Regions from separate parts of the Homo sapiens genome. Here region 1 is linked to region 2. Evidence: fine-mapped expression QTL. A gene starts in region 2. The other region holds a variant in brackets. All regions are shown on one strand. Distances are from middle to middle.

The links. PIP is the estimated chance that this variant, and not a neighbour inherited with it, causes the effect.
Region 1: its variant is fine-mapped to the expression of ZFAND2A-DT in thyroid (GTEx, PIP 0.98).

Annotation. Positions count from the first base shown.
Region 1 is chr7:1,001,694-1,014,461 of GRCh38, reverse strand. It overlaps CHLSN (cholesin), which reads left to right. Exons shown (of 5, transcript NM_001318252.2): 3 at 4,319-4,512. LOC124901570 (a long non-coding RNA gene) reads right to left here and starts at 10,303. Exons shown (of 3, transcript XR_007060184.1): 1 at 10,050-10,303; 2 at 9,017-9,673; 3 at 8,391-8,674. The variant C/T (reference allele first, on the strand shown) is at 8,349.
Region 2 is chr7:1,156,858-1,167,197 of GRCh38, reverse strand. It overlaps ZFAND2A-DT (ZFAND2A divergent transcript), which reads right to left and starts at 6,824. Exons shown (of 3, transcript NR_110069.1): 1 at 6,575-6,824; 2 at 4,655-4,846; 3 at 1,240-3,037. ZFAND2A (zinc finger AN1-type containing 2A) reads left to right here and starts at 7,002. Exons shown (of 5, transcript NM_182491.4): 1 at 7,002-7,234; 2 at 8,941-9,040; 3 at 9,448-9,542. The coding sequence starts at 8,986. RefSeq lists enhancers at 5,846-6,358, 6,359-6,872, 6,873-7,385, 7,386-7,900 and silencers at 6,464-6,513, 6,524-7,063.

The DNA of each region.
Region 1 (12,768 bases), 150 kb after region 2:
GGCCCGTGTCACACAGATGGACGGGTGGGGTGGGCGGAAAGGAGCTGTTGGGTCTCTGCTGCCTCAGTCGAGTCTACGGGAACCTTTTAAAATCAAATTAGTGTCATTTCTTCTCTGTGTCTCTTGCCAGGAGTTAAAGGCATAAAGGAAAAACATAGTTTTCATGCAGTTGTATTTTCTCAAACAGTGTCAGCTTCTCTGTAAGAATCTCACGGCTCTCTTCTCTGGAAGGTGCTGTGGCAGCTGATCCACTTTGCTCCTCCCAGCCTGTAGGGTTTGGCTTTGTGGTTTGTTTTCAGTGTATTTGTTGAGTACAGTGAACATTTTCATTGCCTGATGGTAAGGATTTCATGTTTGACTGCACGAGTGCCGCGTTGCTTGAGGTAGCCTGTGGAAGTGTCCATGTTGTGAAATACACAGCGTAGGTGCAGTGACAGGCCCGCTGGCCGCCTCCCCATCCCAGTCCTCGGGGTCGCAGTTTATCTGTGTGGGTGCAGGTCCTGCGTAAAGCTTTTCATGCACATTGAATTGTTTTATGCATTTTCAAATGTAATCCTCAAGACATCTAACCGCAGGAGACAGAATGTGTGGCTGGAATTTTTATTTTTCTGTACTTCATATGAGTGTCTGTATTTCATCAAGTCTGAAATGCTGAAGACTGTCCTAGCATTGAGATAGGGTGACTGTACTTTTGTACGACTTTCTGCTTGCCCTGGGATGGTCCAGAGACGCCGGCTTTAGACATCACACGTCTGTGACAGGCCGGTGCTTCCTTCCATGAGGCCCGTCCCATCTGTGTTGGAAAGCCTTCATGTTAGGAGAGAGACTCTTGCCCTGACAGCGTCGGCTCAAAGCCGCCCACAACACCTCTCCCAGAAGAGTGGCCCCAGACTGCAGGGTCTGTGGGGTGGACACTGGGCCTAGAGGGGCTCCAGGGGGCCCAAAGTCTGCCCCTTCCCAGAATCCTGGAGCCGGCAGGAGCCTGGAGTCACCCCTGGCTGCTGCGCCAGGCTTTGCATCCTAGGCCTGAAACTCAAGTCCCTAGAAGGGGCCCTCACAGGCTTTTATTTGACACTGGGATTCTTTTAAAAATTTTTTGGTGTGTACTTAGGTAATTTACAAGCCCTTGGGGCAACTTTGGGAGCTCTATGTGATAGTGTCAAGTTTGTTAAAAGTATTTGCTAATTAAACCCACGTTCTTATTTGCTAGTGAAACCCGCGTTCTTTGGAGGGTCGGCACGTGGGTGGCAGTTAGAGAAAGTTCTCCGCTGCTCGTCTGTGGGTGACAGCCGTCCTACCTTGCTCACCTGTGCTCTCCGGGCCAGACACTGTGCAGGCCAAGCAGAGCAAGCAGCAGGTCCCGGCATTACCACGCCCGATCCTGGCGGCCCCACCACCCTCCCGCGCTGCTCCCATTCCCCACGACCTGCCGCGGCCTGTGCCCTCCAGCCTGCCTGGACCTGCTGCCTCCCGCCCCCTCCAGCTGCACACCCTCCCGGGGCCCGCCTGTGTCATCCCAAGATAGCTGAGGTCGCTCACGTCGTGGTCACAGCCTTGGGGAATTGCCTGGTCCAGGACAGTGAGCGCGAGCATAGGGCGGCCGATGGCACGGAGTGGAGCCGGCACCCCCAAGGCAGCGAGCGCGAGCACGGGGCAGCCGATGGCGCAGAGTGGAGCCGGGCACCCCCAAGGCCCCTGGCTCTCCGGGCGCAGCACCCTCACTCCAGCTGCCCCTGCGTCTTCTGTTGAGGCCCAGCACAGAAAGCAGGAGTTTGGAAAAGTTAAAGGTGCACCGGCCAGTGTCAGGCACAGCCCAGGGCAGTGGGTGGCACTCCTGAGCTTCCCACCTCGTGGCCACAGTGGCTCCCTCGGGGACACGGGAATTGGGCTGTGACTCCTGCCAGGTCGGGAGCGCTGGTGGCCAGAAGCAAGAGTGGGTGTGAAGGAAGCTGTTTCCGCAGCATCCAGGCTGGTGCCTGACACAAGAAGCAGCCCTGCACCGGGCGCTCAGGAAGCCTGCGGGAAACAGCTGGGCCTGCGGGTCCCCGGCTTGGCCCCGATATGGGACGGCCTGGGTTCCCCTCGCCATCCACCCCAGGCCAGCGCCCACGTTGCTGTTGCCCACAGCCTTGGCCCCGTCCTCACCACTCTGGCCACCAACCTGGGACCCTACCACAGGGCCCTGCCCACCTGCTCAGGGCCTGTCCGGGTGCCCCACGCATGTGGGCTGACAGACCCTCGGCCACCGCGGCGGCCCCTGTGCAGCCCTAACAGTGTTATGGACTTTGGCCCGTGTGATCAGCCGTGGACTGCGTGGCCCATGGAGTGGGGGCCGAGGCTGGGCCTGTGCCAGGAGGGTTTTTACCTTTCAGGGCCAGTTGTTGTGCCTGCCCCGTTGGCGGCTGTGGGCGGCTGTGGGCCTAGGAGGTGAGCATGGAGCTGGTTGGAGCCGGTCAGTCACCAGGCTCCCCTGGGGGTGTCCACATCCCCACCATGAAAATCTTGCTCCCCAGAGCCCTGCGTGCCTGGCCTGGTGGGTCTCAGAGCTTCCTGCCTGTGTGTGTGGGCGGCCCAGGCCTTCCCACCGGGACTCTTCAGCCTCTCTGTGCCAGGCATCTGCCAGGGACGGTGCTCCTCGTCCCCCAGGCCCTGTCTCTTGCTGCGGACCCCTGGCAGGCTCTAGGGGTGTGGCTGTGGGTGTGTTGGCGTGTGTGTATGGTGTTTGTGGGTGTCTGTGGGCGTGTGTGGGTATCTGTGGGTGTCTGGGTGTGTGGGCATCTGTGGGTGTCTCTGGGTGTGTTTGGGTATCTGGGTGTTTGTGGGTGTCTGGGTGTGTATCTGGGTGTGGGCGTGTGTGGCTGTGGGTATGTTGGGATGGTGTGTGGATGTGTTTGGGTGTGTTTGGGTATCTGGGTGTTTGTGGGTGTCTGCAGGTGTCTGGGTGTGGGTGTGTCAGGGTGTCTGGGCGTGTGAAGGTGTGTCTGGGTGTGGGTGTGTCTGGGTGTCTGTGGGCGTGTTTGGGTGTGTGGGTGTTTCTGGGTGTCTGTGGGTGTTTGGGTATCTGTGGGTGTCTGGGTGTCTGTGGATTTGTTGGATGTGTGTGGGTGTCGGTGTGTGTGGTTGTATGTGGGTGTGTGGCATGTGGGGGTGTCTGGGCGTGTGGGTGTTGGTCTATGTGTGGGTATCTGGGTGTGGGTGTGTTGGGTATGGGTGGGTGGGTATGTGGGTGTCTGTGGGTGTGGGTATGTGTCCGTGTCTGTGGGTGTGGGTGGGTGAGTGTGGGTGTATGGTGGGTGTGGGTGGGTGTGGGTCGGTGTGGGTACATGGGTGAGGGTTGGGGGCTGTGTTTGGCTGTAGGGGTGAAGTCTGTGAATGTGTGTGTCTGTGTCGGGGGGGTGGGTTGCATATATATCTGTATGTAGGGGGGCTTGCCTCACTCTTCTTTGCTCTCCCTGGGGTGGGATGCGTAGGCGTGGGCTGTGCCCGGCCTCCCTTCCTGGAAGCTCCCGGTGGGCGCTGCCTGGTTGATTCCCACGCCCCTAGCTGTTTCCCTGGGCTCCTGGCCTTGCTCGGAGTCTACACTGATGTTCTGACTTTTCCAAAAAAGACGAAGCATGTGGACAGCGGCTGGGGTCACCTCATGGTCACCCCGTGGCCCGGCTGCCCCGGCTTTGACGCTTTGCACCGTCCTCTTCTTTTGTTAATGAGGGGAGGGTGGGCAAGACGGAGGGCCTGTGCTTTCCTGGCAAGATGTGGCTGGGGACACATTGTCACAGCGGGCCCTCTCCCTCCCTTGGGGGTCTTGGCCCCCTCCCTGTCCCCAGCCTGCAGCCCAGGGGGAGCCAGGCAGCCAGTGACCTGCCAGAAAGCAGCAGGCCCCAGGCACCGTCCTCGGGATTTGGGTCGGGTCTGGGGCCAGCACCTGGCCTGTGTGATAACAGACACCAGCACACCTTCAGCCCTCCCTGGGGGCCGGCCCGGATCTTCCCACACTGTGTGGGGTGGGGCAGGACCTCACAGAGCCTCGGGAGCCGGGAGTCTGTGGGAGGTGGACCACGGGGGTGGGGAAGGGGCCTCTGGGCAGTTAATCCTGGCACCTGGCGCCTGCCCGCAGGACTGGCCATCCTCATGTGACCTGTCTGTCTCTTCGTCGTAGCACAGGCTTAGCAGGATGGTGTCGGCTGGGGCCAGACCCAGTGCTTGGGGACAGAGCTTTTGGCCACTACTGAGGTGAGGGTGGGCTCGGGAAGCCCCAGGCAGCGCACCCGTCTCTGGATACCCTCCATCCCCGAAGCCTAATGTGTTCCTTGACTTTCAGGGCGAAGCTGTGCTCAGGCCCGGGCTGGACGCAGAGCCAGAGCTGTCCCCAGAGGAGCAGAGGGTCCTGGAAAGGAAGCTGAAAAAGGAACGGAAGAAAGAGGAGAGGCAGCGTCTGCGGGAGGCAGGCCTTGTGGCCCAGCACCCGCCTGCCAGGCGCTCGGGGGCCGAACTGGCCCTGGACTACCTCTGCAGGTGAGCGGCCCTGCCCCACGCGGTTCTGTCCCGGACGTGCGTCTCAACCCCTGCCTGAGGGGGTCGAAGCCTTCACTCGCACACACTGTGTGGAAGGTTCTAGAGCAGTGAGGTATGAGCGTTCATGCCAGGCCTGTGCTGCCGCCGCTGCCCTTTCTGTCTGAATGGCCCAGAGCCTTCAGGAACTTTCAGGGGCGGCAGCAGAGCCGCTGCCCGTGCAGGGGTTGCCTGGAACTGTGCTTTTAGAAATGGGTCTGATGGTGAACCTTGCCCCAGGTGTACGTCACCACAGGAAGAATCCACGGGCCTGGGTGCTGCTTGGACGTGGGGGTGAGGAGGAGGGAACTCGTGGTGGCCTTCAGCCCTCACTCACAGTGACAGGAGGCGCCACTGCCACCCAAGAGCGGGAAGACGGGGATTGTGGGGTGCTGGGCACAGGGTGCCATCTCCCTGGCTGCCTGCGGCGTGGCTGGGTGGATGGTGCCTGCGGCGTGGCTGGGTGGACGGTGCAGGATTGCAGGGGTCAGAGGCTTTGGCGTGGGCTCCACAGCCTTGCGGGCTGTGGCCACCTCCCCGGCGCTTACCAGCACAGGCTGCTGCCCGTTCCTGTCCGTCTCCCTGAGTGCTGACTGCACCTAGAATAAGGGGTGTCACGGCGTCCACGTGGCTGGCTTCCTCAGAGACAAGAACTGGGTCCCTGTGATGAAGTCACCCTGAGGGGCAGGGTGTCCTGTGGGGGCACTGGCCCTGCCTGGGAGGACAGGCTCCAGCCGCACCTCTGTGGGAGGCCCTCGGAGAGATGACCTCCTCGGAGAGATGACCCCCAGTGTGGCTGTGCAGCTAGCGGAATGAGCAGCGGGGCCTGCGTGGATGTGCACGCTGCGTGCACGTGCACGTGTACGTGTGTGCATGTGTGTACGTGTGTGCATGTGTATGTGTGTGTGTGTGCGTGTATGTGTGTTCGCATGGGTGTGTGTGCACGCATGTGTGTTCGCATGAGGGGGTGTGCGTGTGCATGTATGCGCATGTGTATACGTGTGTTGTGTACGTGTGTGCATGTGTATACGAGTGTTGCGTACACGTGTGTGCGTGTGTTTACGTGTGTGCGTGTGTATACACGTTGTGTATATGTGCGTGTGTACATGTATACACGTGTGTACATGTGCGTGTGTGCGTGTGTGTTTATGCACGTGTGTGTTTATGTGTGGACATGTGTGTTGTGTGTGCATCCCCAGGACGGTCCTCCACCTACAGGAGAGGGGCTCTTGGCTGCCCTGCACCAGGCTCAGCGCCGGGCTCAGGAAATGGGGATGGGGGCAAGCCTCCTGTTTCTCGGAGCTGAGGCTGCCTTGGGGGTCATAGAATGAGCTCAGCCATAGCGTTGGGTGGATCCGGCTGGAACCAGTTGAGTCATCATGGGTCTCTGCACTGGTCAGTTCTCTGGGAGGCTTAGCTTCCCTCTCCCTGAGGAACGTGGGGCTGAGGCCAGGTGCCCAGGGCTACCCCAAGAGCTCTTTCTTGCTCCAAGAACGCGCTTGGCCCAGGGGACCCAAGGTGCTGGCTGTGGTGTGAGGCTGCTGCCTCCTGCGCTTGCTCCTGCTTCTCTGCAGGCAGGGCCACAAGCCACCGCAGGGTCAGTCGCTGTAGACAGAGAGGGCTTCAGAGGCCGTTAGTGCAGCGTCTCGAGCCCAGGTGTGGGCAAGGTGTGGGCTGGGCAGAGCAGGTGGACACAGGCCTGGAAGGTGCCAGCCGCAGGAATGGACTGTAGGCTCCCTGTGGGAGGCAGAGGGCGACTGGGGCCTGCAGCTGTGCCACCTGCACCTTGCCTGTCTCCACTGGCAGGTGCCTCGGGGCGTGGCTGTTCTGGACCTGCCCTGATGCCTGGGGTGGGCGGGGTTTGTCCGCCTTCCTCCCCAGGCCTGCCAGCACCTTCCGCTGCTCTCAGTGTGGACTGTTAGACAAGGGGGACGTTGGGGACGTGGGCAGGAGAGGGGGGACCATCCGCTCCACCACGTGGCTGCCACTCCCTGGTCTTCACCCTGGAGGCGCCCTGACTCCCCTCCCATGATCACACACCCTCCGAGCACCCCACGGGAAGGTCCTGAGTGCCTGGGAGCATGCCCTGCTCCTGTCCTCAGCCTCACCCTCCTCTCCCCCTCTGGGACCTTCCCGTGGCCCCCTCATGCTACTCGCAACCCCCCAGCGGCAAGTCCTGTGCGGAGGCACTGTGTCCTGCGTGTGGGAGGAGGGGGGACTCTTACTTCTCAGAAACAAAGCAGCCCCTTCCCACAGGAGCTTCTTCCAAGGCCTGGGATCCACACACCAGGAGGCCAGCCACAGACACGGGCACCCCGGCAGGAGCTTCTCCTCTTTCCTGGGGGTCTCCAAGGGTGCCCGCAAGCCCAGCCGCATCTGGCTGCCAGATCAGAGCCCACGTGGATGTGTGGAGCCCACGGTATCCCTGGCAACTCAGGGTTTTCCAAAGAGAGGGAGCCCGGGGATTCCCACAGGGGAGTGTCCTCAGCCTGGGGGCTGCTGGGGACCACTGGCCACGCCACGGCTGGCCCACCACAGAGCCCCCAGCCCAGGGGCAGCGGTGAAGGTAGGTGCCCGAGTTGTCCTCCCCCTGCAGAGGCCCTGGACTGGGACTCAGGAAGGACATGCTGGCCGCCGTGGCCCATGGCCATCTTATGGGCTTTCCACGAGGGGTTCCTCCTGGAGGCAAAGCCATCTGCAGCCAGGTGGGCTGTGTGTGGAGGAGACCCCGGATTGTTCTGGTGAGCCCTCATGGTGGAGAGTTTCCTCTCATCTCTCTGGGAGGCACCCCACCCATTCCAGGATGCCCTGGGGGTCTCCCCTCCAGATCCCCCGAAGGCTCTGCCCCCAAGACACGTCGACCCAGCGCCCGTGGGGTCTTCATGCCCCGTCCCTAGAACCCGGGTCGCAGGCTGGGCAGCATCCCCACACGGTGACCTTGGCCTGTGACCTGTGACCATACCCTGGGCTGTTCTTGCATCTCAAGGGTTCATCTTCTCTGCAGCCTTCCTGGGGTGCTCCTGGCTTTGTGTGAAGCTGGGGCTGGTGGGAGCTGTGCAGCAGGGCTGGGGAGAGGAGGGTCCAGAGGGTGGGATGGGGGATTGTGGCCGTCATGCGCTCTTTCCCTGCGCTGTGGCCGTCGTGTGCTCTTTCCCTGCAATGTGGCCATCGTGCGCTCTTTGTCTGCGCTGTGACCGTCATGCGCTCTTTCCCTGCAGTATGACCGTCGTGCGCTCTTTCCCCGCGCTGTGGCCGTCGTGCGCTCTTTCCCCGCGCTGTGGCCGTCGTGCGCTCTTTCCCCGCGCTGTGGCCGTCGTGCGCTCTTTCCCTGCGCTGTGGCCGTCGTGCGCTCTTTCCCTGCGCTGTGGCCGTCGTGTGCTCTTTCCCTGCAGTATGGCCGTCGTGCGCTCTTTCCCTGCGCTGTGGCCGTCGTGTGCTCTTTCCCTGCGCTGTGGCCGTCGTGTGCTCTTTCCCTGCGCTGTGGCCGTCGTGCGCTCTTTCCCTGCAGTATGGCCGTCGTGCGCTCTTTCCCTGCGCTGTGGCTGTCGTGCGCTCTTTCCCTGTGCTGTGACCGTCGTGTGCTCTTTCCCTGCACTGTGGCCGTCGTGTGCTCTTTCCCTGTGCTGTGACTGTCCCCTCGTTTTCCCAGCAGGGGCCCCAGGCTTGGTCACCCAGCTCTGTTTTTCCAGCTCAGAGCCGTGTTGCTCTGGCCTTGCATAGGCGGAAGTTTGGGAGTGCTGGAAGCAGTCCCTCCACTTTCTGTGGGTCTCTGGGTTGCTGGGTCCACTGTGGTAGTTACA[C/T]GAGCGAGGCACACGGCTGTCAGCGGGCAAGCCTGTTCCTCATTAAAGAGAAAAAAGAGTTTATTTATATGCTTAACGCAGGAAATTGAAGATTTACTTTCCATATAACTGAAAAAAGAAAAGAACACGCCTGCTGGGTGTTCACGTTGGGGGCAGGTGGCGAGGTGACCGCTGCCTCCCTGGTCCCTGCAGGCTTTAGCTCACCATTTTCGGGGGCCGGCCCCCTGCCTGGGTCTGCTCGAGGCGGGAGGTGGTGCCCCCACAGGAGAGAGAGGAACTGGGACCCGGGCCACACGGATCCAGCCGGGACGGGGTCCCCCACTCACCTGCGGGAGGACGAGAGCAAGTCACTCCTGCCGTGGGGCAGCCCAAGCCCACCCTCCTCAGGTCCCCATGTTGCCCAGCACAGCATGGTGTCTTAGCTTCCTTGCACCCCGTGGCCTCCGGGCCTGGAACCCTGGAATGACAGGCCAGAGCAGAGGCCAAACTGTCCCATCAGCGGAGCTTAGGGGACACTTCTTGGGTGTCCTTCCCTACCCAGGCCCACTGCCCCGCTGCCGAGGGACAGCCCAGCTCCAAGTATGGGAGGAGCGGCCAACCCATGAGACCCGGCCCCTGTCCGCGCCAGCCCCGCTCGGGCCTTCATGGGCATTGGGTCGTCAGCTCACCGCGGCTGGCAGTTCCTGGTGCAGTTACGAGCACGTGGACGCTGTGGCTGCGGGCCGGCTTCAGATGCTGTCTCAATAGAGACCCTCGCTCAGTTTTCTTTTGGAAGGGGGTTCAGCAAGAAGTCCCCGCTTTTTGTGGGTTGATTTGTTTGTTTTGAGATGGAGTCTCACTCTGTCGCCAGGCTGGAGTGCAGTGGTGCAATCTCGGCTCACTGCAACCTCTGCTTCCCAGGTTCAAGCGATTCTCCTGCCTCAGCCTCCTGAGTAGCTGAGATTACAGGCATCCGACACCACGCCCGGCTAATTTTTTGTATTTTTAGTAGAGACAGGGTTTCACCGTATTAACCAAGATGGTCTTAGTCTCCTGACCTTGTGATCCGCCCTCGGCCTCCCAAAGTGCTCAGCTTACAGGCATGAGCCACTGTTCCCAGCCGCCCCTGCTTTTTTTTAAAGCCCAGTAGGCTAGCAGGGACTCTGGTTCTCCACCCAGCTGGTGAGTACCACAGGGGAGGAGGTTCTTCTCTCTGGGACGCTCTAGGCAGCTCTGGACAGATGACCCTGCAGTGGCCGTGGCCCCCGCTATGCTGGGGACAAGGGACTTCCCTCTGACTGCTCTCTTTCCTTTTCCAAGATGGGATCTCCTGTCTGCTGCCCCACCTAGGCAGAGAGAAAGAGGATTGTGTCAGGCATCCTGTGAACTGTCTGCAGTTGCGCAGGGACCAGTCCCCAGGGTGGGTGGCAGAGGCGGCCATCACTCAGGAGGCCTCGCCCAGTGCCGTGGGAGCCACAGGCGACACTGAGCACCCCACCCGCCCCTCGCTGTGTCTGCTCCCCCAGTGACGAGGCCAAGAGCGGGACGGCTCATCTTCGGTGGTGAGGGAGATGGGCTTGGCTTGAAGTCTGCCTGGTGGGGGCTCGGTGAGAGAGAGGCGCCCTTGGTTCAGGGCCGTAGGCAGCAGTGCCGTGGGCCAGCAGTGCTGTGGCCTCGGGCCCCATGGGAGGGCAGTGTGCAGAGCAGCTGTGACTGACTCACCGTGCGTGGGCTCTGGGAACACCCGTGAAGTGGGGTCACCACTCCACGTTCCCAAGGAGGAAACAGGCTGGTGGAAAGCAGCAGCTCAAGGTGGGAGAGTTAGAAAGTGGCAGAGCTGAGATGCCAACTTCTGCCCTGCAGCAGTAAAACAGCCCCCAGCAGGCAGATGCCATGGCCTGGCTGGCCCGGGTGCACCTCACAGGGGCCCACGCTGGCCGGGTCGGCCATCCGGGGAGCAGACGACGAGGGGCTGTCTAAAAAGAAAGGAACTAAAATTAAACCTCCCTGGAGGCCCCTCTCATCACGCAGGAGCCCTGCGTCACTGCACATGGGGCTGGCGTGTCACCTAGCAGCTGCACAGCTGGGCTCCACACCCGCAGGACTCCCCACCCGCAGGACTCCACTCACCCACAGGACTCCCCACCCACAGGACTCCACTCACCCACAGGACTCCACTCACCCACAGGACTCCCCACCCACAGGACTCCACTCACCCACAGGACTCCACTCACCCACAGGACTCCCCACCCACAGGACTCCAAACCCACAGGACTCCACTCACCCACAGGACTCCACTCACCCACAGGACTCCCCACCCACAGGACTCCAAACCCACAGGACTCCACTCACCCAAGGACTCCCCACCCACAGGACTCCACTCACCCACAGGACTCCACTCACCCACAGGACTCCCCACCCGCAGGACTCCACTCACCCACAGGACTCCCCACCCACAGGACTCTACTCACCCACAGGACTCCCCACCCGCAGGACTCCACTCACCCACAGGACTCCCCACCCGCAGGACTCCACTCACCCACAGGACTCCCCACCCACAGGACTCCCCACCCACAGGACTCCACTCACCCACAGGACTCCACTCACCCAAGGACTCCCCACCCACAGGACTCCCCACCCACAGGACTCCACTCACCCACAGGACTCCACTCACCCGCAGGACTCCCCACCCGCAGGACTCCACTCACCCACAGGACTCCCCACCCACAGGACTCCACTCACCCACAGGACTCCACTCACCCACAGGACTCCCCACCCACAGGACTCCCCACCCACAGGACTCCACTCACCCACAGGACTCCACTCACCCACAGGACTCCACTCACCCGCAGGACTCCACTCACCCGCAGGACTCCACTCACCCACAGGACTCCCCACCCACAGGACTCCACTCACCCACAGGACTCCACTCACCCACAGGACTCCCCACCCGCAGGACTCCACTCACCCACAGGACTCCCCACCCACAGGACTCCACTCACCCACAGGACTCCCCACCCACAGGACTCCACTCACCCACAGGACTCCACTCACCCACAGGACTCCCCACCCGCAGGACTCCACTCACCCACAGGACTCCCCACCCGCAGGACTCCACTCACCCACAGGACTCCCCACCCACAGGACTCCACTCACCCACAGGACTCCACTCACCCACAGGACTCCACTCACCCACAGGACTCCCTACCCACAGGACTCCAAACCCACAGGACTCCACTCACCCAAGGACTCCCCACCCACAGGACTCCACTCACCCACAGGACTCCCCACCCGCAGGACTCCACTCACCCACAGGACTCCCCACCCACAGGACTCCACTCACCCACAGGACTCCACTCACCCAAGGACTCCCCACCCACAGGACTCCCCACCCACAGGATTCCACTCACCCACAGGGCTCCACTCACCCACAGGGCTCCACTCACCCGCAGGACTCCACTCACCCGCAGGACTCCACTCACCCGCAGGACTCCCCACCCACAGGACTCCCCACCCGCAGGACTCCACTCACCCACAGGGCTCCACTCACCCGCAGGGCTCCACTCACCCGCAGGACTCCACTCACCCACAGGGCTCCACTCACCCACAGGACTCCCCACCCACAGGACTCCACTCACCCACAGGACTCCCCACCCACAGGACTCCACTCACCCACAGGACTCCACTCACCCACAGGACTCCCCACCCACAGGACTCCCCACCGGCAGGACTCCACTCACCCACAGGACTCCCCACCCACAGGACTCCATTCACCCACAGGACTCCCCACCCACAGGGCTCCACACCCACAGGATTCCCTACCCACAGGACTCCCCACCCACAGGATTCCACTCACCCACAGGGCTCCACTCACCCACAGGACTCCACTCACCCGCAGGACTCCACTCACCCGCAGGACTCCACTCACCCACAGGACTCCCCACCCACAGGACTCCCCACCTGCAGGACTCCACTCACCCACAGGACTCCACTCACCCACAGGGCTCCACTCACCCACAGGACTTCCCACCCACAGGACTCCACTCACCCAGAGGACTCCCCACCCACAGGACTCCCCACCCGCAGGACTCCACTAACCCACAGGACTCCCCACCCACAGGACTCCACTCACCCACAGGACTCCCCACCCACAGGACTCCACTCACCCACAGGACTCCACTCACCCACAGGACTCCCCACCCGCAGGACTCCCCACCCGCAGGACTCCCCACCCACAGGACTCCACTCACCCACAGGACTCCCCACCCACAGGACTCCACTCACCCACAGGACTCCCCACCCACAGGGCTCCACACCCACAGGACTCCCTACCCACAGGACTCCCCACCCACAGGACTCCACTCACCCGCAGGACTCCACTCACCCACAGGACTCCCCACCCACAGGACTCCACTAACCCACAGGACTCCCCACCCGCAGG
Region 2 (10,340 bases):
CCGGGCACAGTGGCTTACCCCTGTAATCCCAAAAAACTAACAGGCGTCGTCCAGGTTTGAATTCTGACTTCTCTGTTTCTTACCCCCTCCACGCCTCAGTTTCCCCTTATTTAAAATAGGGATCGTAGCAGGGACCCGTTGGCGAGGAACACTTGTGGCCCCTTGTTGCGGAGTTGATGTGTTACTGGAGACGCTGCGACCTCCTCTTTTTTTTTTTTTTTTTTTTTTGAGACGAAGTCTCGCTCTGTCGCCCAGGCTGGAGTGCAGTGGCGCAATTCTCGGCTCACTGCAAGCTCTGCCTCCCGGGTTCACGCCATTCTCCTGCCTCAGCCTCCCGAGTGGCTGGGACTCAGGCGCCCGCCACCACGCCCGGCTAAGTTTTTGTATTTTTAGTAGAGACGGGGTTTCACCACATTAGCCAGGATGGTCTCGATCTCCTGATCCCGTGATCCGCCTGCCTCGGCCTCCCAAAATCCTGGGATTACAGGCGTGAGCCACCGCAGCCAGCCACGATCTCCTCCTTTCTAGTGGACATCTCGAGGTCTGCAAACTAAGGCCATGAGAGCTGCCCGCCTCCCTGCAGAGTCGTGCTATTACAAGGCCCTTCTTCCCTGCTGACCACAAGGCAGCTATCAGAGGCTGTCTTAGGAGGACTTCACGTAAAAAGAAGCCCCTAAGCTTGATAGGCTGAGAAACCTAGGTACGCCATGGCCACCTTACTTATGCGTGGTGGTACTTCTCTGTTTCTTTGAATGCAGGTGTTCAATTAATTACAAAAAAGATGAAACTTAAAATTCTGACTTGGCCGAGTGTGGTGGCTCACGCCTGTAATCCCAGCATTTTGGGAGGCCAAGGCACCCAGATCACGAGGTCAGGAGTTCGAGACCAGCCTGACCAACATGGTGAAACTCCGTTTCTACTAAAAATACAAAAATTAGCCAGGCATGGTGGCACATGCCTGTAATCCCAGCTACTCGGGATGCTGACGCAGGAGTATCGCTTGAACCCAGGAGGCAGAGGTTGCGGTAAGCCGAGATTATGCCACTGCACTCCAGCTTGGGTGACAGAACAAGACTCTGTCTCAAAAACAAAAACAAAACAAAAAACAAAAAAATTGAGCAAATAAGAAAATCCACTGAGGACAAAGGAGCCAGGTTTCTCACTGCTGGAGAAGGTATTCACAATCATGAAAGGTAGAAAGCTAGAAAGAGCCCGGAGGTGTTGGGCTGAAACTGAAGGCATGGTTATGGATTTGGTTTTTGGAAAAACACATGTATGCAACATAGACATAGCTACAGACGTGTGTATATACACAGGCACATACATCTTACATTCCTAGCCTATGTCCACCGAGAGAGCCCAGAAGCAATGAGCGCACTGCTCACCCAAATCCTGCTGTTTTTTAAATTATTATCCTTTTTGAGACGGTGTCTCGCGCTGTCACCCAAGCTGTAGTGCAGTGGTGCAATCTTGGCTCACTGCAACCTCGGCCTCCTGGGTTCAAGAGATTCTGGTGCTTCAGCCTCCTGAGTAACTGGGATTACAGGCACGTGCCAACACACCCAGCTAATTTTTTATTTGTAGTAGAGACGGGGAAGGGTTTCACCATGTTAGCCAGGCTGGTCTCAGACTCTTGGCCTCCAGCGATCCGCCCACTTCGGCCTCCCCAAGTGCTGGGATTACAAGCATGAGCCACAGTGCTCAGCCCAAATCCTGGCTTCTAAATGCCACCTTCCATAAAGGAACCAACGTCCCTAGGGAGATGGCTGACTGCAGGGTTGGAGCAGGGAGAGAACAAATGACCCTGGAATATCTGAGGCCAGGAGGTAAGGAAAAGTGCAGAGAAGGACGGGGACACGTCAGCACTCGGGAGCCAGCGTGAAGGGGCGCTCACTCACCAACTCTGGGATGTGAACATCAAAATAAATCATGACTGCAATAGAATACTTCCCAGTGAATGAGACAGAACTCTGCATCCATATGGTGGTGACTATAAACTAACAAATAAATGAGTAAGAAAATAAAATCTCTCCTTTACAGTAGAATGCCAACTAAAGGTGTAGAAGAAACTATGGAAATTATTTTAAAAAGCACCACTGGGCAACAATCAGAGGGCTTCAGGTAGAAGTCACCGATGGAGGTTAAGGTGGGTCTGCAGAAGTTTCATGAATAAGACAATGGTTGTGATGGTGAACTGAAGGGTGGCTAGATGGCTGGTATTGTTTCTGGTGTGATGGTGCTCCCAGAGAGACTGAAATTTGAGTCAGTGGACTAGGAGAGGAAGATCCACCCTCAGTGGGGGTGGGCACCCTCCAACCGGCTGCCAGCGCGGCTAGAACAAGGCAGGCAGAAGAAAGTAGGTAAGCTAGCTTGCTGAGTCTTCTGGCTTTCGTCTTTACCCCATGCTGGATGCTTCTGTCCATTCCTCCTGCCCTTGGACATCACACTCCAGGTTCTTTGGCCTTCCGGCTCTGGGACTAACACCAGTAGCTTTCCGGGGTCTCTGGGCATTTGGCCACAGACTGAAGCCTGAACTGTTGGATTCCGTTTGAGGCTGTTGGACTCCGGCTGAGCCACTGCTGGCTTCCTCGCTCCTCAGCTTGCAGATGGCCTGTCATGGGACTTTGCCTTGTGATGGTGTGAGCCAGTTCTTCATAAACTTTCTTTCATATGTACATATATCCTATTAGTTCTGTCCTTCTGCAGCACCTTGACTAAGACAATGCTGTAATCTCAGAATGTCTTCCTGGAAAATACGAATCAACTGACAAATGAAAACACGGTGTCTTCATTCTGGCAAAACCCAGCAGACACCAATACCACCAGGGAATTGAGATAAACATAACCCAGGTAGAACTGGCTGGAAGCCTGTGCCCTGACATGAGGACTCAGGACACGGCACCTTCTCTGCAGTCCCGCCAAGAATATAAGATCCATCCTAGGTGTATGAGAAGTCTTTGCCCTTTAATAAGGATGGGCGTCTGCAAAGACACATTCCAGTTTGGGGAAAGCTGAAACTGTGATAGTGGATGAGATCCTGGAGCGGAAAGGAAAAGAGACATTGTTGATACTGTCTGTAAAATCTGCAGGAGGCTGAGGCAGGAGCATCGCTTGAACCCAGGAGGCAGAAGTTGCAGTGAGCCAAGATCGCACCACTGTACTCCAGCCTGGGCGACTGAGCGAGACTCCGTCTCAACAACAAAAAAAAACTGAATGGGGTCTGAGAATCAGAACTTAGTATTGTTTCTTTTCTTTTTTTGAGACAGAGCTTCACTCTGTCAACCAGGCTGGAGTGTAGTGGCACAATCTAGGCTCACTGCAACTTCCACCTCCCAGGTTCAAGCGATTCTTCTGCCTTAACATCCTGAGCAGCTGGAATTACAGGTGCGCCGCGCCCCCCACCACACCTGGCCAATTTTTTTGTTTTGTTTTGTTTTGAGATGGAGTCTCACTGTTGCCCAAGCTGGAGTGCAGTGGGGCGATCTCAGCTCACTGCAACCTCCACCCCCGAGATTCTCCTGCCGCAGCCTCCCGAGTAGCTGGGATTACAGGTGTGCACCACCATGCCCGGCTAATGTCTGTATTTTTACTAGAGAAGGAGTTTCACCATACTGGTCAGGCTGGTCTCAAACTCCTGACCTCAGGTGATCCACCCGCCTTGGCCTCCCCAAGTGCTGGAATTACATGCGTGAGCCACCGTACCTGGCCACACGTAGTTTCTTGATTGCAAGAAGGCTGTCATGTGCCTAAGGGAGAAAAAGACGTGCTGATCAACTTCAGTCAGGCATGAGTGACAGAGGTACTGGCCATGAATTCCATGTTAATGAATCAACTAGACATTATTAAATAAGGAACCTTGAGAGAGAGACATGTACAACAAGGTTAACGATGAACTGCTTAACAAAAATGCTGTGGCCAGCGGCTCGGAGGAACCTGACTCTGTATTTCCCCGGGAGCCAGTGCCTATGGGTGTTACTCACCAACACTCACGATAATTAGATGATTCCAGGTTTCCTGCGACTTTGCAGAACTATCACTGAGCAACGCAAGGTGAAACATAAGCAGGGCCACTCACGTTTGCTTTTTTCACAAGGTCAGACTTTTATTGATACTTAATCAGAAAAGCCGCAACTACACAGGTTTCCCAAGGTGGCAATTCCCCTTAGCACAGCCCGTTCACTCGGTGGCCACAGCCCCGGGCATTCAGGCTCAGACCACTCCACAGGTGAGTCAACACTGCAAACCAAAGATAGTAGTAAACTTAATACATAAATGTTACAGATTATGGATTAAAATGTCCACTTACATCAAGAGAAAAGGGGGGCAGGCCGGGCACAGTGCCTCACGCCTGTAATCCCAGCACTTGGGGAGGCCAAGGCGGATGGATCACCTGACCAGCCTGGCTAACATGATGAAACCCCATCTCTTCCTAAAATACAAAACAATTAGCTGTGCGTGGTGGTGTGTACCTGTAATCCTACTTGGGAGGCTGAGGTGGGAGAATCACTTGAACCTGCAAGGCGGAGGTTGCAATGAGCCGAGACCGAGTCATTGCACTCCAGCCTGGGCAACAAGAATGAAACTCTGTCTCAGAAAAAAAAAAAAAAAGAAAAAGAAAAAAAAAGAAAATGTGGGTAAAACAGGGTTAACGAACCAGTCCAAGGAGAGCGATGTGGCCAAGGAGGAGGTCCTGCACTGATCCAGACATCTTGAAAGGTGGGAGTCCGGGCCTGGGCAGAGCCTTCAAGGGGAGATGTTGTGTGATTGGGAGGGACAGCAAGATGGAGCCAGTCACCACCGCCGTGCAGCTGGTGAGGTCCTGCTCTTTTCACAGCCCTTGAGTTCTCTGGTGAAAACCGAGAGTAAAGACTGTACAATAAGCCGGGCACAGTGGCTCATGTTCTGTAATCCCAGCGCTTTGGGAAGCTGAGGCAGAGGGATCACCTGAGGTCAGGAGTTCAAGACCAGCCTGGGCTACATAGCAAAACCCCGTATCTACAAAAAATACAAAAATTAGCCAGGCATGATGGCGCATGCCTGTAGCTCCCGCTACTCAGGAGCCTGAGGAAGAAGGATGGCTTGAGCCTGGGAGGTGGAGGCTGCAGTGAGCTGTGATCATCCCAGTGCCCTTCAGCCTGAGCCACAGAGGAAGACACTGTCTAAAGAAAAACAACAAGCTGGGCGCAGTGGCTCACGCCTGTAATGCCAGTACTTTGGGAGGCCGAGGCAGGCAGATCACCTGAGGTTGGGAGTTTGAGACCAGCCTGACCAATATGGAGAAACCCCCGTCTCTACTAAAAATACAAAATTAGCCGGGCCTGGTGGTGCATGCCTGTAATCCCAGCTACTTGGGAGACTGAGGCAGGAGAATCGCTTGAACCCAGGAGGTGGTGGTTCCGGTGAGCCGAGATCACACCACTGCACTCCAGCCTGGGCAACAAGAGTGAAACTCCATCTCAAAACAACAAACAAAAAACAAAACAAGAAAAAGCATGCCTGGTTGTGTCTGTCCTTACCTGATTGGGCATGGTCTCTATTGATTAGGCGACCATCTGGTCTGGTTGGCACGACGCTTTTTGGGTTTGAGGAAGGGTCTGCTCTGCTGCCCAGGCTCTAGTGCAGGGCGCATTCACAGCTGACTTATGCCTCCACCTCCCAAGAGGCTGGGACTGCAGGTGCATGCCACCATGCTGCGTTCATTTCTTATTTTTGTAGAGACAGGGTTTCGTCATGTTCACCAGGCTGGTCTTGAACTCCTGTCAGGCCTCTGAGCCCAAGCTAAGCCATCATATCCCCAGTGACCTGCATGTATACATCCAGATGGCCTGAAGCAACTGAAGATCCACAAAAGAAGTGAAAACAGCCTTAACTGATGACATTCCACCCTTGTAATTTGTTTCTGCCCCATCCTAACTGATCAATGTACTTTGTAATCTCCTCTACCCTTAAGAAGGTTCTTTGTAATTCTCCCCACCCTTGAGAATGTACCTTATGAGATCCACCACCTGCCTGCAAAACATTGCTCCTAACTCCACCGTCTATCCCAAAACCTGTAAGAACTAATGATAATCCCATCGCCCTTTGCTGACTCTCTTTTCCGACTCAGCCGGGCTGCACCCGGGTGAAATAAACAGCCTTGTTGCTCACACAAAGCCTGTTTGGTGGTCTCTTCACACAGACATGTGAGACACTAACCTCAGGCCATCCTCCCACCTCGGCCTCCCAAAGTGCCGGGATTACAGGCCTGAGCCACCGTGCACCGTCCGGCTAATATTTTATTTCTGCAGAGATGGGGTCTCGCTATGTTGCCCAGGCTGGTCTCCATGTCCTGGGCCCACGCCCTCCTCCTGCCCAGCTGGGCGGGGTCTTACCCAGGCGGAGCCCCTTACGTGCAGGGCGTTCTGTGCAGTGACCGCGGCCCTGGGCAGAGCCAACCCCACGCGGCCACATAACCGTCCAGGGGGCGGGGGGCAGCGCGGTGAAATGGAAAAGGATTTAACTGGGGGATCTAGGTGCTGGGGACACTGACATTTTCGGTATTATTCTTGAAGCTTTTCCCTAAGTTTGAAATTACCTAAAAACACGTTGTTTTGAGATGGAGGCCTCCTGGGGCCCGCAGGATGCGCGGCCGCGGGCGGGTGCCCGGGGCGGGAGGCGCCGGATGGGTCGCTAGGCCTCCTCCCTCAGGCCGGCCTCGCGCTCCTACCCCGCAGGACCCCGGCCGCAGCCCTGAGTCAGCTTCCCCGCTCCTCGCCCGCCCGGCTGCGCCTGCGCGGAGCCGCCTCACTGTGACCCAGCAAGCGCGCCGCCTGCGAGAAGCGACCGGACACTTCGAGAAGGGAAGTGGAGAAGCGAGGAGTGGGCGGGCCTGCGGGGCGCGGCGGGGCGGGATTGGCCGGATGGCTGGTGTCGTCTTCGGTGTGCGCCGGCGCCACTGGGCCGCGGCCTGGCGGGATTGGCCGGTCTGCGGGTGACGTTGTCGGGGCGCGCCCGGAAACCCCAAGGCCCAGACGGCTCTCAGATCCGGGGGCTGCGGATAAATCCCCGTAGGCCGCGGGCAGCGAGATGTTGCGTTCCGGTGTGGGTGTGGGTGTGCCTCCGACGGCGTCTCGGTGCCAGTGTCGAGGTTCTTTCTGCTTAGCTACCCGGAGCCGACTACGGAGGAGGACACCTGAGTTTACGTCTCTTCCATCTGCTGCTCACCTCAGCTGCCTGGGTCCCCGACGAGAGCCAGGTACGGGGCCGGGATTGCGCAGACAGGGTCTGCCGGGGGTCGGGCCTGCCTTGAGGTCAGGTTGCTCGGGGGTTCGGCCTGTCTGCTAGGAGTGCGGCTGCTGAAAGTCCGGCTGCTTGCTGGAGGTCAGGCTGCTGGGGGTCCGGCCTGTCTGCTGGGGACCGGGCCTGCCGGGGTCTGGCTGCTGGGGGTCCGGCCTGTCTGCTGGGGACCGGGCCTGCCGGGGTCTGGCTGTTGGGGGTCCGGCTGTCTGCTGGGGACCGGGCCTGCCGGGGTCTGGCTGCTGGGGGTCCGGCCTGTCTGCTGGGGACCGGGCCTGCCGGGGTCTGGCTGCTGGGGGTCCGGCCTGTCTGCTGGGGACCGGGCCTGCCGGGGTCTGGCTGTTGGGGGTCCGGCCTGTCTGCTGGGGACCGGGCCTGCCGGGGTCTGGCTGTTGGGGGTCCGGCTGTCTGCTGGGGACCGGGCCTGCCGGGGTCTGGCTGCTGGGGGTCCGGCCTGTCTGCTGGGAGTCCGGCTGTCTGCTGGGGGCCGGGCCTGCCATCGGGGCCGTAGTACCGGGTCGCACGGGGTCGTTAACCCGCCAGCCGAGTGACAGCCACGTAGATGTGTGTTTTCTTGCTGCGGGCCCGGCCCGCCAGGGTAGGGTGTTGGTTTCCTAGGACGGGTGCTGTGCGTCCAGAACAAAATCATTTGGGGATTCACATCAAACTCTTGTGAATTCCTTGAACAAAACAATTTCGGAACGCCTGCTGTGTGTCGGGCACCGGGAGCTAATAGTAAAGCAGCGGATCTGTAGTTGGAAGCTGTGGGCGAAGGAGGGCTGGGAAAGGACTAATGGGCACCTTAAGTAGCGGGCGTGTAACATAGAGGGAACTGGGGAGGGTGGGAATGGCTTTAAACTGAGGCGGGAGGGGATAACTAGACGTTTGCCATGGGCGAGAGTGTTCCAGTCTTAGGCGACAGTCTAGGAGGCCTCCAGGAGTGGGGAGAGAGCTGATGGGAAGGTCAGGAAAAGGCCCCGGGAGGGGCTGGTGAGTACTAGATGACGGGACCTCGTGAGCCCCAGGAAAAGGCCCCGGGAGGGCTGGTGGGTACTAGATCATGGAGGGGACCTCGTGAGCCCCTTGATTCTCTCTCGAGTGCGGTAGTTTCACCAGCTGTCTGCCTGTTTTCCATAGTGACTTAACAGCTTGCGCTTCTCCCTGATCAACTCCAGGTTGATGTCATCGAGGAATAAGTTCACAGTAAGATTCAATGCCTAAGGGAGTTGAAGAGAGAGGCGAGGGACAGAGTTAAATCTTCTCTGGATAATGGAGTCAACTGATGTGATTTAGCACCTAGTAACAGAGTTTTGTTTATGTGAACAAGTATATTCCATGGATAAAATTGTGACTTAAAATTCACCAAAGTCGTAATCATCACTGGCAGCTGTGTGAATTAGCTCTCGCCCCCTCAGTGTGAGTTTAAATAGAAACCCGAGTTCAAGGAGTGCTTCATAGACTAGGAATTAAAAGGCCTGTGAAGGAGTCCGTGTCTCTTAATGGGGTTGACTACGAATGGCGGACACCTGGTATTTGTACTAAAACTCCATGGAATGCTCCCCACACAGTGCGTTTGTTGACTTTCATTAGCTGTAATTACATTGTAAATCCTGGTGACTGAAGGGCAGTCCAGCTTTCCTCCTAACTATTCTGATTCTCTTGTAGGTGACACTTAACTCCGCCATCTGCGTTTTGAGCACTGTTCTCATAATGGAGTTTCCTGATTTGGGGAAGCATTGTTCAGAAAAGACTTGCAAGCAGCTAGGTGAGTACTTTTAAGAGACTTAATAGAAAATGGTATTTTGTTGGGGGAAAGCTGGCTGTTCTGTTAATTAGCTGATAATTGTGTCTTGGCCTTCCTGGCTCCTCAGTATTGGGAACTGTGCTGGTGCAGGTTCTGTTTGACACTTAGCATCCACCAGAGGCTGGGTGCAGGAGTGCAGGCTGGCTAGCAGGGCCAGGTGGATCCAGGGGGCTGCTGGAATACTTGCGATGCCATAGGGGGTCTCTAGAAGACAGCCTGACCCTGGGATTGTTTTCACATGTGTGGCCCTCGAGGACCTGTCCATCTCATAGGCCTAAAACACTTAGTGTAGGTAAACACTTTGATAGTACTATCTGGAAGTATTTTGTTCCAGTCGTTAAAACACTTCCCTGTTTTTTGTTTTTTAGATTTTCTTCCAGTAAAATGTGATGCATGTAAACAAGATTTCTGTAAAGATCATTTTCCATACGCTGCACATAAGTGTCCGTTTGCATTCCAGAAGGTAATTGATCCTTTGTTCAAAAGATTCTCATCTTCACCGTCTGAAGCTGCACTGTCTTGCTGGTATGGTAGGGACTAGCGACGTATGGCTAACTCATTGAAAATTAAATTTTAAAATCCAGTTTTTCAGTCCCACTAGCCTCGTTTCAGGTGCCTGCTGTTAGGCAGTACAGAGGAGCGTGTCTGCCCTCACAGGACATTCTGTTGGATGACTCTCAGACAACTGAGATCTTATTTTCAGGGACTCATGGAGTCACTTAGTTGTAACCTTATGTTCCAAGCTTACTTTAGATGTTCAAATACTTGGTTCCTTTGATCTGTTACACCATAGCTGTTACACCATAGCTGTGTCTTCACCAGATGCAAGAAAGATTTTAATATTTGACTTGGAAGCCAATCAGGAAGGCAGTAAATACGCTTATTGATTTGAATAACTGCAGCCTTGACATAGTATTTAGGTGACTCCCAGAGTACACAGCAGAAACTGAAAGAGGACCTAAGGAAATGAGCTTGCCCCGAGTCCAGAGGTTTGAGACTTGTTGTTGACTTTTCAGATGGTTCCCAGCCCGTGTTTACTTTGTCTCTGGATGGGTCACAGGTCATTTTAGTGAACTCTGCCACTTGACCGTGGTGGCAGTGGTAATGTGGGTGGCCCAGCATTCTGTGCTTTGACCAGTGTTGGCCAGGGTCTGACCCTCCAGCCATTTTTAGGCCATCACGGTGGGTGGGGAGGGTGACTCACATTCCCTGCGTTTACTAGGCACGGATGACTAAGCCAGACTGCCCAGCTTGTCTTCCC